2 linked regions of the Homo sapiens genome follow. The protein of the gene in region 1 interacts with the protein of each later gene in a biochemical or structural test. Each region holds a gene or a part of one and is shown in the gene's direction. Other genes may lie near its edges. The genes, in order: MAFK and BACH1.

The links.
Region 2: the proteins of MAFK (region 1) and BACH1 form a complex in vitro, tested with the Homo sapiens proteins (one study listed by BioGRID).

The regions. Positions count from the first base shown.
Region 1 is NC_000007.14:1,540,533-1,543,698, forward strand, and holds the end of MAFK (transcription factor MafK), read left to right. Parts: 3' UTR 1-2,511; downstream 2,512-3,166. UniProt on the Homo sapiens protein: Since they lack a putative transactivation domain, the small Mafs behave as transcriptional repressors when they dimerize among themselves.
Region 2 is NC_000021.9:29,343,817-29,346,867, forward strand, and holds the end of BACH1 (transcription regulator protein BACH1), read left to right. Parts: 3' UTR 1-2,332; downstream 2,333-3,051. UniProt on the Homo sapiens protein: Transcriptional regulator that acts as a repressor or activator, depending on the context. Binds to NF-E2 DNA binding sites. Plays important roles in coordinating transcription activation and repression by MAFK.

The DNA.
Region 1 (3,166 bases):
CAGGGTGAAGAGTGGGCTCCCGTGGGCCCAGAGCTGCACGCCGGTCCACAGACACACTCACGCCCGCCACCTGCTCCCCGCAGGATGTGTCTGTGTGTGGGAATTGGTATCTTGCACCCGTGGGAGTCGGGACATATAATGGAAAGGCCCTCGGGAAGTTCCGCGTCCTCTGTGGGGGCTGCCGGAAGACACGGCCCCAGGAGTCAGGCCCCTGTGGTCAGGTCTAGCATGGGGCTTGTTTTCCACTCCTGCTGTAAGCAGCCTTCGACACCTGTCCTGCCACGGCCTCCCAGCCGGTGCGGGAGCCCCTCACTGCCCTGACCGACTCCGCAGTCCCCGGGGAGGAGCATGGATGGTGTGTCGGCAGCTCCGTCCTTCCAGCTGTCCCGTTGCAGTGCCCGTGATCCGCGTCTGCCTTAGCAGGGGCCTGCGTGAGTGGGCACGGTGTGGGAGGTCGCCTGCGTGGGGTGGTGTCTGTGTGTGTGCACGCACGCCTGCCATCAAAGCAGCAGGGCTGAGGGGGTGCAGCTTGCTGGTGTTCACTGGGGGAGGGCCTGTGGGCACACATGGCAGAGAGAGTGGCTCACACGTCGTGAGGTCTCCCCTGTGCTCTGGTGACCCGAGGAGGTCGTGCAGCACAGCGCAGAAGCCCCTGCCCACGGGATCCGGCCCCCCAGACACCGACCCCACAGGCCGTCCCGGATCTCAGCGGACACAGGCAGGAGCGCCCCATCATTTGACGGTGAGCAGGACTCAGGCTGTGTGTCCTGGAGCTACTTCTCACCAACTGTGGTCAGTGCAGGGGGAACGAGGAGGTCTTTTGGGGGCCTGGCGAGGGGAAGGGCTGCTGCAGTCTAGGGAGAGGGGGTGCAGCCTGGGGGATGTTGGTGGACATGGATGTGGAGGTGGAAGGAGGAGGACGTTGCGTGGAGTGGTGGGAGGAGGCGGGAGCCGTGTGCGAGAGCAGGTGGAAAGCCTTGAGGGGCAGGACCAGGATGCAGCTGGCTTGTAGAAGAGCTCAGGAGTGAGCCTGGCACTCCAGAGGGCGCGGCGGGTGGGGAGGCAGCAGGCACCAGTCCAGGAGAGCTTCGTGGACGTGGCTCCTGCGCGCACACCCCCAGGAGCACAGCCACGGGCTGCAGGTGTGGCTGGCCTCAGCACTCAGTCCTCACCCGGAGCCTTTGCCTGCTCCTCCTTCCAAGAGCACTGAGGCACCAGTGGGCTTGGCACTCCACCTTGGGCTTCCTTTTCCTGGAGAGCCGCCTTGAGGGTCCCTCCTGTGACTGGGGTCTCTGCAGCGAGAGCCGCGGGGGTTGCGGAGCCCCTGCCTGGGGGAGCTGGCGGAATGTGAGCCGCCGGCCGGGGGCCGCCACATAAGACCTGCAAGGTGGTGCCTGGGGCCCTGGCTCCTTCTCGGCTGCCCCTGCCCACCCAGTAACAGCCCCCACCAGCTACAGAGCCCAGGCGGGTGCCAGCCACGCTGGGAGGGCAGAGGACAGACAGCCCCGGGGCTGCGACTTGGTTCTGTGTCTACTGTTAGAAGTTGAGTGGGAAGCTGCAGGCCCGCCAGGACCACTGGGTCCCTACAGAGCAAAGGCCTGCGTGTTCCCAAACAGCCGTTGCCCCCGTGGCCGTGGTAGGTAATCCATATTGGATGTCATAAGGACCAGGGGGATATTTAAAGAGAGAAACAGAAAATATATAGAGATATAAAATTATATTCACAGTTTATCTACAGATTTTTCGTAACAATCTTTCTTTTCCAGTTTGATACTGTAAATCTATCAGAGCAGAGCCGGGGGCACGGGCACAGGTGGGAGTTGGGAGCAAAGCGGAGGCCCGGGCTGCCCGCCGTCCCCCTTCATCTCCCCACGGACTGTACCAGGCAGCTGGGCCCCGCAGGACAGGCCGCAGCGGGTGGCCGGTTCTGTCCCGTCTTGGGGTTCTTGGTGTCCACGTCTTGTGGGCCGTGGGCTTCTACCTGCCCTTGGCCTGCAGTGCTTTGCTGGAGAAGGGACTCCCTGGTCCCCAGGGTGGACGGAGCCGCTGTCACCGCCCAGAGCTGGGCCGGGGAAGCACGGTGTGTTCTGCTTTTCTTTTCAGATTGTTGAAATTTCATTGTCATGATTTAATATATGGATTTTTTTATTTAAGAAAAAGACGAGGGACTCTTTGTCACGTGGGTTTGTTTTCTGTCTCCGTGCCTCCGGCTTCCCAAAGAGATCCAGGTCTTTGCGTTTCCAGGGCGTGGGGACCCCGGCCCCCTATGCCGCCACGCCGCCACACCGCCTCACCCTGGCTTCTGTGCTACTTGGCAGTTCCATTTCATTATTTATTTTTTGTGCTGCTTTTTATCATGATATAAATTATTGAAAACAGATCACATGTGGGCCCGTGTCTGGCCGCCGCCGCCCTGCCCCGTCCCTGCGGCCACCACCTAATTTATTGCCGTGCGTCCTGCTGCTGTGACTGCTTTTGTACCTTTGCAATAAAGAATTTTCTGGTTTCAGACCCTTTCGTTGCGTAGCTGGTGCTTTCAGCTGGGGCTTTCTTGGGCCAAGAACCACACCCCCCCCCCAATCCCAGGGGACCCTGCCTGTCCCTCACCGGGGTCAGGATCCGGGCACTACGTGTAAGTGGCTTTCCCGGACTGCTGGGCCGTGACCGTGAGGCTGGGACAGCCACGGGGGAGGTGCTGGTCAGGTGACCACGTCCTGGGCTCAGTCTCTGAGGGTCAGGCCGCAGTCCTGAGTGTCCCCATCTGCCCCACCCGGAGCCCCCTGTCCATGCAGCCTCTCCCTTCCAGTGGAAGGAGCAGAGAGCAGCACGGCTGTCAGTGTTCCCCTTCCCTGGGAGACATCTCGCCCAGCTTTGCTGGACTCTCAGAGGAGCCTGCAGGAAGCTGTGAGCAAGACAGGGTCTGTCTGGGAGCAGAGAGCAAAGCGCCCCTGCACAGTGGCCGGAAGCCCGTGGACTCCTCCGAAAAGCCACGGGCCTGCCCGCATGCCGTCCCCACCCCGCCCGGCCTTCCCCGTTTTTGGGGCTGAGCTGACCGAGGTGTGAACGCTGTTCAGTGCTGGACCACGCAGGGTGAAATCCCAACTCGAGTTTTTTGAGACAGTATCTTGCTTTGTCACCCAAGCTGGAGTGCAGGGGCGTGATCACA
Region 2 (3,051 bases), on another chromosome or scaffold:
TGTTTTTGAAGTCGTATTATTCACTTGTAAAAATGATTGTAACAGATAAAAAATGTATCTGCAGCAACTCTGCAGGTTTGTGAAATAGGATGAAACTCAATCTTTTTCTATTGTGGGTTTGCATTTGAAAAGCAGGTTGAATCCTTGCTCTCTTCTCCAAATTTGGTGTGGTATAAAGACACACAAATCATTTTAACTTGGACATTTAAAGATCAGTCTTAGTGTTTGTTCAGTCCTGTTACAAAATAGATAACTGAGCACCTATCGCATAACATTTTGCGGTGGCTTTTAGCCATGCTGGGGTTAGATGTGTTTGAGAGTCAAATGAAAGCTATGGATCTTCTCAGCAATTAAAAAAAATGCATATATTCACATTCACAGAAACATTGGCAGAACCCAGTTTTAATGGTACAGAGGAGTAGTTTATAGTGTTGATTTCACCAAAATCAGAGGGCTGAAAGAGACACTTCTATAGACTGCATCCTGAGCCTAGTGCAGGGCTTGTCTAGCTAATGTGGGCAGCCACCACCCACTGTGTATGAACAAGTCTGAAGCAAGTTGGCCTTGCCCTTGAGAGTATATGGGGACCAGTCTTCATGTCTTGGAGTAATTTGTCAAATGTTACCCTTTTTGATCAGGGTGTAGGGGGAGGATATTGCTAGTATATTTTCAGTGGTTTGTATGTTCTCTCTGTCACTGACTTATTTGTAAGAGAAAATTAGTTGGACTTGTTTATTTTCTAGTAGCTTTTATAAGTACACTCAAGAATTTGTCAGGGAGAATAATTCTGATAGTGCATCCCATACTGCAAAAGAATTTGTGTGTGTGTGTGTGTGTGTGTGTGTGTGTGTGTATGTGTATGTATACATATATATCTCTCCATATAGGTATTTCTTTGATACTTGTAATTTTAAATTTCAGCTTCACGATATAAAATAATATAAGAACTTCTGGTTTACAAAATGTAAAATCTTAAGCCAATGGAACCCTTGATTTCCTACCTCAGTGTACACCCAACTATTGGTTGTATCAGTTTGTGTATGTGCAAATGTCAAATAATCTTTTGCTTTAATTGCTACTGTACTTGCTTTGAAAGATTACCTACTATTTTATGATAAAATGTAGTTGTCTCCAGAGCTTAAATATAATTTGTAAAGCACTTGGTTTAAATTTCTCTCTACCTATAAACAGTTTAGCATTAAGGGTTTCTATTAATGACACAGAATTATTGGCCAAGTGTAATTTCTTAAAATTTAGCATTACTTTAAATAGCCAGCATGTAATACAAGTAACTACACTACCTCATATCTACATGATTTTCAAGTTGTAATGCAGATGGACAGATAAAAAAGATTTTACGTTTGTCTTTTGGCCATAAGTGGGAAAGTTTTCTGTATATTGCATAGCATTACACATTTATGCCTATTTTAACATTAACTTCTAAAGAAGTTTTTTCTAAGAAAATGTTTCAAGGCAATATTTTTTTTGAGGCTGCCGAAGACAAATGACAGGATTATGAGTATACAGTGTATGCCTTTTCCTTCATGCAGAATTTTGAAATGTTTTCAGTTTGTATATTGCATATTCACATGATCATTGTTCACTATTTTATGAACTGGCCTTCTCAATGTTTGATGATTTTTTAAAAGCTGTTATGTTGAATTCAGTAAAATAACATTACCTTATTTTTTTTCTTATTCAAATTCTGGAACTATAGCAAATAATTCGTTAAATTGTCATATTCAAAACAAATGTGGATACAGTCTTGGTTCTCCATCTGTAATTTTTTTTAACAGTTTGCTATAGCTTACTGCTTAACTAATTTTAAATAAGGAAATAAGTATGTTAGATGCAGTAGACGATACAGGTTGCATGTGGACACTCAGTCACATTAACAACTTGGGAAAAAAATGGCAATGTTACGGTGAATTCTCAGGTGAACTTTTTTCAGTTATAAAACATCTATTTTGAATCTGTAAATATTTTAAATGTTTTATTAAGGCATGTAATAAACTATTCTTTGAAACTTGTTGGGTAGAATGAAAATTAAAGCCATAATGGTAGAAGATGGCATACTGATTATAAAAGAAGCAGAAAAACATTGATTTTTTTATATCTTTCATAATATAATTTTCTAACAATGCAATAAAACCACTAAACTTTTGTGTCCATATTTTACTGAGACCATGTTTCATTAAAAGCATAGTTTCATAGTATTTAATTTACATTTCTCCCTAATGTTCTTACCCAAATGTACCTGAACTAAAAAATGTTAGATGTTGGTGATAAGTTGACAGTTAAATAAAATTCTCTAAAATTGCTTCTAATTGAATAGAATTGTACATTCCATTTTCATTTTCTCACTTCATGTGGATTTACTCAGTTTAGTCTTTTGATCGGTAATTAGTATATCTGAATTTGTAGGAGAGAATCTTTCCTTAGTTGATGATAATCATGCCTCAAAAAAAAAAAAATTCCAGCATTCAGGTGTTTTAGGAAGCACAGATTTTAGCTTTGCTTCTGATTTTACTTAATGTTAGTTTGGATAGAGAAGTATAGGGACTCTTAAGGGGTATTATCTCTATCAGTCATTAAGTTTTAAAAACTTATCTGCCGAGTCAGCTCTTTGTATCCTATTCAATTTCCAACCAGGCCCTTCTGACCAAGCTTTGGGCAGCTGCTCAGCGGTATTGGCCATCCAGGGCAAAGTCTTCTGGTCTAATCATAGTGATTCTCAGCTGGGGATGATTTTGCTTGCCTAGGGGACACTTGGCAGTTCCCAGAGACACAAATCTCGGGGGCAGGGTATAGGATATGGCTTCTAGGGGCAGAGGCCAGGACAGCCCTCACAACAATTACCCACCCAGGGTATCGATCTGGCTGACATTGAGAAACCCTGACTAGACCAACGATGGAATCAAGATGACTTGTAAGAAAGTGCTCAGTTGTGTGAGATAGTGTGGTGGCTGCAAGAGTTCAAAGGAGACAGGGTGAGAAACGTGGGATTTCACCAAGCTTTGAAAGATTGTAGTCTGAATCGGGAGAAGATGG